2 linked regions of the Homo sapiens genome follow. The protein of the gene in region 2 purifies or fractionates together with the protein of the main gene of each other region. This does not show direct contact. Each region holds a gene or a part of one and is shown on either strand. Other genes may lie near its edges.

Evidence for each region.
Region 1: the proteins of VCPIP1 (region 2) and UFD1 purify together in Homo sapiens (affinity purification with mass spectrometry; 2 studies listed by BioGRID and IntAct, with this or other methods). This does not show direct contact.

Annotation. Positions count from the first base shown.
Region 1 is NC_000022.11:19,457,466-19,462,597, forward strand, and holds part of UFD1 (ubiquitin recognition factor in ER-associated degradation protein 1), read right to left. Parts: intron 675-5,132; coding exon 606-674; intron 1-605. UniProt on the Homo sapiens protein: Essential component of the ubiquitin-dependent proteolytic pathway which degrades ubiquitin fusion proteins.
Region 2 is NC_000008.11:66,627,011-66,632,731, forward strand, and holds the end of VCPIP1 (deubiquitinating protein VCPIP1), read right to left. Parts: 3' UTR 1,477-5,721; downstream 1-1,476. UniProt on the Homo sapiens protein: Deubiquitinating enzyme involved in DNA repair and reassembly of the Golgi apparatus and the endoplasmic reticulum following mitosis. Necessary for VCP-mediated reassembly of Golgi stacks after mitosis.

The sequences.
Region 1 (5,132 bases), on a different chromosome or scaffold from region 2:
CAGCACTTCATTCCTACTCAGAAGGTTCAGTACGCTTCCTTAGCTCTTAAGCATATTCACTCCTCGGCCAGGCGCGGTGGCCCACACCTGTAATCTCAGCACTTTGGGAGGCCGAGGCGGGTGGATTACCTGAGGTCAGGAGTTTGAGACCAGCTTGGCCAACATGGTAAAACCCTGTCTCTACCAAAATACAAAACTAGCCGGGCCTGGTGGCACATGCCTGTAATCCCAGCTACTCGGGAGGCTGAGGCAGGAGAATCGCTTGAACCTGGGAGGTGGAGGTTGTAGTGAGCCAAGATCGCACCACTGCACTCCAGCCTGGGCAACAGGAGTGAAACTAAGTCTCAAAAAAAAAAAGAATATTCACTCCTCAACGGGTCAGAGCTAACCATGGCAGCACTGGCAGCAAACTCTGTTGCCCCAACTGGCCCTGAGATAGATCACAAGGTCACAGTCTCCTCATGATGTTCTGACAGCATCTTCCTCCTCTTTACCCAGAGTCCCAGGGGCTGTTTGATGCCCTCCTGACACCCTGGCCTGCAGTGGTCACCAACTGCCCATCCTCCCAGGGCCCAGGCTCACTGTAACTGGACAGAGCCACTCACGTTCATGTCACACTCAATGATGGACACTGCCTTGTCGGGTTTGGTCTCCATCACACGCAGTTCGTAGATCTGTGGGGCAAACACAGAAATCAGTTGGATGGTTTCCTGGCAGCACTGGAGCTGTCGCTGTCCATGTTACTGTGGCTCTACTGGCTCCTGCGAATGACACAGCATTCATGCCCATGACACAACCTACAGCTGCACTTCTTGCTGTGACAACACTGCCATAAGGGACAGGCTGCCCTGTGCCCATCGCTGAAGAGATGCTGTTCCCCAGATATGGTTCAAATTAGACAAGGTAGTTATACAGCTAACTGCAAAAGACACTAACAACCTTTAACCTGGAAAGTTCACTTCTGGAACTTTACTATTTATTTTATTTATTTATTTTTAGACAGAATCTCGCTCTATCGCCCAGGCTGGAGTGCAGTGGTGCGATCTTGGCTCACTGCAACCTCCGCCTCCAGGGTTCAAGCACTTCTCCTGCCTCAGCCTCCCTAGTAGCTGGGACTATAGGCATGTGCCACTACACCTGGCTAATTTTTGTATTGTTGTAGAGATGGGGTTTCACCATGTTGGCCAGGCTGGTCTCGAACTCCTGACCTCAGGTGATCCGCCCACCTCGGCCACACAAAGAACTGGGATTACAGACATAAGCCACCGCACTCGGCCTTCGAAATTTATTCTAAGTAAATAACTAGCTATACCCAATGAGAAAATTCTAAGAATGCTCATACCAACGTCACTAATACCACTGTACAGATGCTCCTTGACTTATGATGGAACCAAGTCCCATAAACTTATAAGTTAAAAATGTATTAATATTCCTAACCTACCAAACATCATAGTGCAGCCTGCCTTAACCATTCTCAGAACACATACATTAGCCTACAGTTGGGCAAAATCATCTACTATAAAGCTTATTTTATAATAAAATGTTGAATAACTCATGTAATTTATTGAATACTGTACTGAAGATCAAAAACAGAATGGTTGTATAGGTATTCAAAGTATGGTTTTTACTGAATGTGTATCATGTTTGCATCATAATAAAGTTGAAAAATTCTAGGTAGAACCATGGTCAGGGACTGTCTGTATACTCAAAATGCAGCTGAATTATATTTCTTCATATGTAAATTTACAGTTATACAATGGTATGCTACGCAGCCAACAGGAAAATAATTGTAAAACCAGTCATGTTGCTTGTGTCTAAGATGACCTCACCTATGTAAAAAAGGCACATAAAAAATGTCCAGAAGCAGGGCCGTGCGTGGTGGCTCACGCCTGTAATCCCAGCACTTTGGGAGGCCGAGGAGGGCAGATCACGAGGTCAGGCAAATGAGACCATCCTTGCTAACATGGTGAAGACCCGTCTCTACTAAAAAATACAAAAAATTAGCTGGGAGTGGTGGCAGGTGCCTGTAGTCCCAGCTATTCGGGAGGCTGAGGCAGGAGAATGGTGTGAACCCAGGAGGTGGAGCTTGCAGTAAGCTGAGATCGGGCCACTGCACTCCAGCCTGGGCAACAGAGCGAGACTCTGTGTCAAAAACAAACAAACAAACAAGCAAACAAACAAACTCCAGAAGCATAGAAATTAAAAGTGGCCCTATCTACTTTTTCCTGCATCATTTCAGGTTCTTTGCTTTTATCTAAAGTCTGTCTTGCTTTTTTTTTTTTTTTTTTTTCGAGATGGAGGCTCGCTCTGGCACCCAAGCTGGAGTGCAATGGTATGGTCTTGGCTCACTGCAACCTCCGCCTCCCGGGTTCCAGCGATTCTCTTGCCTCAGCCTCCCAAGTAACTGGGACTACAGGTGCGTGCCACCACACCCAGCTAATTTTTGTGTTTTTAGTAGAGATGGTGTTTCACTATGTTGGCCAGGCTGGTCTTGAACTCCTGACGTTGTGATCCACCCGCCTCAGCCTCCCAAAGTGCTGGGATTACAGGCATGGGCCACCATGCCCGGCCAGTATGTCTTGCTTTTACAACCATTTTAAAAAGTCTGGATAGTCCCACCATTTAAAAAAAAAACCTAAGCAGGGCCAAATCTACTTTTAAAAGTGTCATAATTATTGAATAGATAAGGAATAAAAAAAGGATCTGTCATTGTGTGGATATACTACCACTTATCCACTGAGCATCCGGCCTGTTTCCAATCATTTTGCTGTGTTAATGACACTACTATAAACATTCAAACATGTCTCCTAGGGCTTGGCTCATGCTTCTCTACCGTTTTCATGTTTTCAAAAGGCCACAAATAATCAGTGGGTCATAAAACCAACAGGGCTGCAAGCAGAACTGAAAAGGAAAGAATTGGAAGACAGTACCCTAGAAGTACTATTGCATTTAGTAAGGATAAATATTCCTGTGACATTTTCCATTTACTTTTATGTATTGGCATAATATTAAATACTTTTTTTTTAAACTATGGGACCAATTTTCTAGGTTGGTGCTCCTCAAACTACCTGGGAAGACCTAGTTTTTAAAAATGTGCAGTCTGCTGGACTGCCATGTGGTCCTCCTGCACAGAAGCAAGACACAACACACACCAGACGCCCAGAGCTCACCAAGACAAGTACTGGTTCTGTGGCCATGTGTGTGGAGGTTATGACAATGCCAAATTACTATACGTTTCTAAACATTCACTTTTGATTCCTGCTTCCTCGAGGCCCTGGCAACCACCATTCTTTTTTTTTTTTTTTTTCCCTTGAGGCAGGGTCTTGCTCAGTCCCCCAGGCTGGAGTGCAGTGCCTTGACCCTGGCTCACTGCAGACTCAACTGATCCTCCCGCCTCAGCCTCCTGAATAGCTGTAACTAGGCACATGCCACTACGCCCAGCTAATTTTAAAATTTTTTCATTAATTTTTTGTAGTGACAGGATCACACTATGTTACCCAGGCTACTCTCAAACTCCTGGGCTCAAACAATCCTCCAACCTTGGCCTCCCAAAGTGCTGGGATGCCAGGTGTGAACCACGGTGTCCAGGTGATTCTACTTTCTGTCTCCCATGAGTTTGACTACTCTAAGTACTCATGTAAGCGGAATGTAGTATTTGTCTGTCTGCATCTGGTTTATTTCACTGAGCAGAATGTTCATCCATGTGGTAGCATGTGTCAGAATTCCCTTCCTTTTTAATGTTGAATAATATTACATTGTATGTGTGTACCACATATTATTTACCCATTCATCTGCAATTTATTTTTGACTATGGTATGAGTTAGGAACTCAATTTGTTTTTTCATCTTAGGAATAGTCAATATCCCAGATTCCGCAACCCCAGTATCTCCTTTGCCTGGTGACATCAATGCTGCCTCAGTGGTGGACCAAGATTCTTTGTATATAAAGCTTTCTTCCACTGGCCTACTTGTCTACTCCAGAACCAATGCCATATGGTGTCTTAACTACTGGAGCTTTATTACACTCAGCTGCCGTATAGAATCTTCCTTATATATGACCAGATTCTTTTGTCAATATTTTATCTACAATCTATGTATCTGTATCAAGTGACAATGATCTGTAGTTTACCTTTCTCCTATCCTTGTGTGGTTTTGGTGATCAAGGTTATGCCGACCTCAGAGAATGAGTTGGGGGATATGTTCTTTCTCTATTTTTAGAATATCTAAGAGCAATTTATTGCTTGAGTGTGAGGAAGAACTTGCATATATAACCATCTGGGCCTGTGTTTCCTGGATTAAGATTTTTCTGATTGAATTACTTGACTGGCTATACAATTATTTAGGCTGTTTGTTTTTTTTTTTCTTTAGTCAAACTTCAATTACACTTTTCTCTAGGAAATAATTTATCAATGTCAAATAAGTTGGCTCATTTCTTAGTATAAAATTTTTCACAGTTTTATCTTTCAAGATATTTGCTTTATCTAATTCATTTTATTTGTTTTTAAACATTCAATATGCATGTAGACTTTTCAGGGTTTGCTTTTTTTTTGTTTGAGGCAAGGTCTTGCTTTATCACCTAGGCTAGAGTGCAGTGGCACGGTCACTGTTCACTGCAACTTCTGCCTCCCGGACTCAAGTGATCCTCCCACTTCAGCCTCCCAGGTAGCTGGGACTACAGGTGCATGCCACCATGCCCAGCTAATTTTTGTATTTTTTGTCGAGATGGGGTTTTGCCATGTTGCCCAGTCTGGTCTCAAACTCCTGGACTTAAGTGATCCACCCACCTCAGCCTCCCAAATTGCTGGGATTACAGGTGTGAGCTACCACACCCAGCTTCAGCTATCTTTTTTATTAACTTTATTGAATTGTAAACAGAGAACACTTTAATTCTAAACAACTCTCTCAAGAGAGTAAGTCTAGGCCAGGCGCGGTGGCTCACATCTATAATCCCAGCACTTTGGGAGGCTGAGGCTGATGGCTCACCTGAGGTCAGGAGTTCGAGACCAGCCTGGCCAACATGGTGAAACCTCGTCTCTACTAAAAATACAAAAGTAGCCGCAAGTGGTGGCACATGCCTGTAGTCCCAGCTACTCAGGTGGCTGAGATGAGACAGGAGAATTGCTCGAACCCAGG
Region 2 (5,721 bases):
CACCTTTGGGAAACCTCCCCTCCAAAGCAGCAGACCCACTTAGTAAACAAGAATTATTTTAGGTCCTTGAAAAACTGGACTTTAACCAGTGATTCTCAAATGTACCCAGGTTAGTCATCTAAGAAATTCTGAAACTCTTCCTTAAAGCACCTCCAAATTTAGAGGAGGCAAGAAAACAAATCCAAGGAAGGAAGAACTTGAGATGGAGGACTAGGGTTCAGGAAGGGAACTAGTAGGAAGTGAAATTAAAGCTGTTGCTCATGCCTGTAATCCCAGCACTTCTGGGACTTGAGACTAGCCTGAGCAACATAGGGAGACCCCGTCTCTACAAAAAATAAATTAGCCAGGTGAGGTGACATACATCTGTAGTCCCAGCTATTTGGAAGGCTGAGGCAGCAGGATCACTTGAGCCCAGGAGTTTGAGATTGCAGTGAGCTATGATGGCACCACTGGGCACTCCAGCCTGCACAGCAGAGAGACCATCTGTATTAAAAAAAAAAAAAAAAAGCCAGATACTCTATACACTGAAATCAATTAAAACCATGTTGGTGTATCTAAAAACAAGCTAGATTTAACAATAAATGTTTGTAAAGACTTATGTGACCACCAAATTTTATTCCTTTGCTAAATTACAAATGTAGCATTAAAGTTAACAGCATAGACTATGGAGTCTTAAACATCTGGATTTAAATCTCAACTCTGCCACCTAACTCCAGGACTTCAGGTAAACCAACTAATCTATATCAACTTGTTTCCTAAAAGATGATAATGATAGTACCCAACCACAAAGGCTTTTGACGGTTAATTATTGCATGTAGTGTTCAGCCTATTGCCCAGATACAAGGGAAAGAGTCACTAAATGTTAGCTATTACCAATGTGTTTTGTGCTTGTCTCCATCATTGGGATGTAAGCTCTAAGGACGCATGGAATTTCTCTCATTTGGAACTGTTTCCCAAGTTTTTAAAACAGGCATTTTATCAGTACTTGTTTAAAATAATGAATGACCCCTCTATTTAGTAGAGACCCCGTCTCTACTAATACAAAAATTAGCCGGGCATGGTGGCGGGTGCCTGTAATCCCAGCTACTCGGGAGGCTAAGGCAGGAGAATTGCTTGAACCTGGGAGGCGGAGGTTGCAGTGAGCCAAGATGGTGCCACTGCACTCCAGCCTGGGCAACAGAGCGAGACTCGGTCTCAAAAAAGAAAATTAAAAATAAAATACTGATTCCATAAATCAAATATAAAAATGTCATCACTTTATAGGTAGACTTTGTACTATACCTGTTTCTGTAAATAGAACAAACAGGAATAATCCCCCCAGATTCCTACACAATTTATCTGTTTCTCAAATAATTTACGTGGTATGACAAATGGGCCAAAGACAGGTTTACTTCTAGAGTGTGCAAATTTGAAGAGCCCATATGTTTTTCACCTCAGTGTATCATATACAGTTCAGAAAATCAATTAAAGACTTACTTCAGTTTTTCTATATACATTTTTAATGATTAGAAACAATTGATTATTAAGTCAGAATTGCAGTTGCTGGGGTCTGAAAGAGCCAGACAATAAAAATAAAATCCATAATGAGCTGTTATAAGTAGGATGTTTATCTTATTTACTAAAGAGTTTTTGAGAATTCTATTCTGATGGTATGTGACCAATGGCATGCATATACAAGACCTCAAGTCCAAGTTTGGGATAACTGTAGCCAACACCTAAAGGAAAGGTAATTATGTTTTAGTTTACATGGGGCTCATACCCATGTCACTTGTCCCATCAGCACTATGCCCTCTGCAAGTAAGACTATGACGACAATGGTCGGCAGAACAAAAGGTTGACAATTGTGAAACCACAAGGTTACAGAAGAAATTGAGGCCTTGAAAGGCTCCAAGACTTGCCTTGGGTCACAGAGCACACTGTCGGTTTGAGATTCTCAGTGTTGCACATGGTCATAAATGTTTGAATGTACAACCCCCCATTTTTTAGTCAATTATGTACAAGTAAAATAAGTTTTAATGTAACAAATTATTTAAATAATGTGTGCCCTGTGAGGATTTATCCCACTTAATGGCAACTGAACTCTACCACATTACATTAACATATAACATAGCAAATATTTGAGTGTTTACTATGTGTCAGGCACTCTTCTAATCATCAGATACGTGTTAACTCATTTAAGACAGCCACCCTGGGAGCAGATGTGATCATCATCCTCGCAGAGAGGAATGCACAGAGAGGTCACAGAAAGCAGCGTACCAGGAGTCAGACCTAGGCAGTCTGGTGTCTAAGGCTATACTCTAAATTATTGAGTTAAATGATCTAATAAAATGTATATTAAGCATATACAATAAAACTTGGAAGTAAACGTGTTGACTGCTAAGCTACACAAACGTTATTTAGTACTATTATCTGTATTTCCTTTCATTTCCTTATCACTAACCAGTATTTTTTTAAACCACCACAAAATCAAGTTCTCTGTTAGAATTTGCCTTCATTTTTAAATATTCAGTAAGCATTATGGCCCAATTATGTAATATGTCTAAAGAAATTTTGCTGGCAGGGTGCGGTGGCTCACGCCTGTAATCCCAGCACTTAAAGAGGCAGAGGAGGGCAGATCACTTGAGCTCAGGGGTTCAAGACCGGCCTGGGCAACATGGCAAAACCCTATCTCTACAAAAAATACAAAAATTAGCCAGGTGTGGTGGCACATGCCTGTAGTCCCAGCTATTCAGGAGGCTGAGGTGGGAGGATCACTTGAGCCCAGGAGGTTGAGGCTGCAGTGAGCCCTGATCATGCCACGGCAATCCAGCATGGGCAGCAGAGTGAGACCGTTTTGGTTTTTTTTTAAATTGCGCACTCTTTTTTCACTGGGTCCATTTCATCTAGCAATGAAATCTACATTAAGGGGAAAAATCACTATTCCTGTACGATAACCCGCTTAAGTTCAACAAGAAAACTTTATTATTTAAGAATTTCTTTATAAAACTGAACTATATGTTCATGCATTATAATTCCAGGAAACTAAAGAACATAAAATTACCTTTAAAAGCTAATGTGGAGAATTTCAGGGGAAAATCAGTATTAACTTATAGTTTTATTATTGATATAAAAGAAAACTTCAAATACTGTACAGTAAGGTGTGCTGTAGAACACTATAATACACTATTACCAATTATTCATTACTCAAATGTAATATATACAGTAATCACGAAATCGGAAAATAATGGGCAACAGCCAGTGCCTTAAGGGTGAAATAACATCTATACTATTTTATTGAGCAGTTAAAGCACTTGCTATTTTTCTAAATATTTACACTATTACTGCTTATGTTTACAAATTCTAAGTATCATTTCCCTCCAAAAAGTAGACTTTCCAGTTCTTGGCACTAATTCTTAGTCAAATAAGCCTGAAAATACTGGCAACCTTTTCAGTCTTGCATTGCTCTACCACAGGCATAATAAGGGCTCAGGACGAGATTTCTGCATTCTAAAGAAAAGTAGGCAATACCTTAAAAATTTAAAAACTAAGTAATTGATACTCACAAGCAGGTAACATCAACTAAAACTTTTTTCTTTACTAATTTTTCCTTTTCTTTTACAAGAGAATAATCATTAATATTATACTACAAAAGCATGTAGTCTCCATAATTAAAAAATTAAATGTCAGATATACAAGTAATGGCATTTTCTCCAATAATTCATAATTTTTACAATTTCTGCTATTTTGGAACAAACATTAAAATTCCCACGATTTAAGTATCATTAAATATGAACTGAAACACTTAGCATCTCAAAGAATTATCAAGAATGGTAGAACTTGTAATTAACTCTATAACTTACATGGGTGATATAGTTCCCCTTTGTTGTTTTATTTCTTAAATATACATTCTACTAAGGAATATTTTCATGTGAACAGCTCTGGTTTGAAAAATTAATTTATACTGTGAAGAGCCTTAAGGTTGTACAATTTTGTTAAATTATATGATAACCTTGAATGGTAGGATGCATTTACTCAACTTAGAATATGGCGCTATTATTATTATAAATGGTGGTTTTTAATTCACATTAAGATAGGTGGAATTTAATCCAATTTTGCAAAGGCTTTGTGTTTATAAAAATCTTAAGATGGAAACCTTGCTTTGAGAACCATAAAACTCAAAATCTGTGTAGTATTTTAAGTATGAACCAATTGAAATTACTGTTGAAAAATGAAGACAAAACTGTATTGATATTCTGAAATAAACACTTTATGCTGCCACTATATTGACCAGTTGAAGTGTAATTAATGACAGAAGTAAATTTTTTACCTAAAGGTTAGTTATTAGTGAGGTCTACATATTTAGAGAGTTATTCAGTAGCAGATAGTATTGGTAGGTAACTACATAAAACAATACTTTTATACATTTTGCATTTAGTAGCTAACATGTGATGTCAGTACAATTCTCAAAAACCTGTCATTAGTAGTATGAGTTGCTAGCAAGTGATCTTCCCTGAGGTAAGAGACCATATGCAAAAGTCAGTGTTCATCTCCAATGAAGATACTTAAAAATAATGGCAATAAGGACCTGTGGCCAGGAATTACAGATGCATTTCAGATTGATATCTTAATTGCAAGCAGTAGGCTTGACTGTAAAAACCAAACTAAAAATCACTGGAAGACACAGAGCCAGTATCAGTCAATAGCATTTGCTAACTTTCTCAGGCCTCTACCCTAACATTTTCCAATAAAAATATCTGAAACAGAGTGAAGCGGGAGAAATGGGTTTGCTCTTTAACTAGTTCCTGAGTAACCATTCTCATGGAGTTAATTATATTCTATCTTAATATATGGCAGCATCTTGTTTTCTTCAATTTACAACAATTTCTCATTACCAGTATTCTAGATACATACTATCTTCAACACTACCTGGACTTTAGGTCATCAACTTAAATTTGGTATGATTAACTATAAAATGGATTACTGAAGAAAAAATTTACAACTTTATTTCAATGTTTAGTGAAGCACTGCAAACAGAATTGCAGGAATGCATTTTAGTTATAATGTTACCTCTAGGGCTAAAAAAAAAAAAAAAAACAAATTTACCTGAGATGTCTAGCTTGCACGCCAAGATGTGGCTATATCACAAATGGCAGTACTAGAAAAATAACCATGCTATAGTCATGTATTTGGTTATGAAAACCATATGGAAAGACAAAGGATGATATTTAAAAACTTAAAAGAAACCCTATTCTAAAACTTCTTTGTGAGGATACCTGGCCTACTTCTCAAAAACCATCAATTCACCCCAACCAAATTTTCAGCTGATTTGAAAGAATTTCAAGAAATTTGATCACTTATCAGAATTGAGCCTTTTATTCATTTATCAAGGGAGAACCCAAACTATTACTGTACTATTCATACCTAACTGGCTTTTAAATAGCATTGCTGTAGCTAGAGAAATTAATAAAGTTGTCAGAGATTAAGTCCATCTTCTAACATTCACATACGCATTCCAATTTGCACTAAATGTAAGAATAGGGAGATAAAGTTTGTTTCTGGTATTTTATGTTAATGCTATGAGATATCTGTCAGTTATCAATGAAGAAAATATTTGTTAAAGAAGATTATATCATTTTACATGAAAGCAGTGCATTTTTTGCTTAAACAGTTTTCCTGTATTTAAATCCCCCCAAAAAAAGTTCCAGTGGCTGAAAAAGCCAAAAATAATTATAGTGGTTAGTG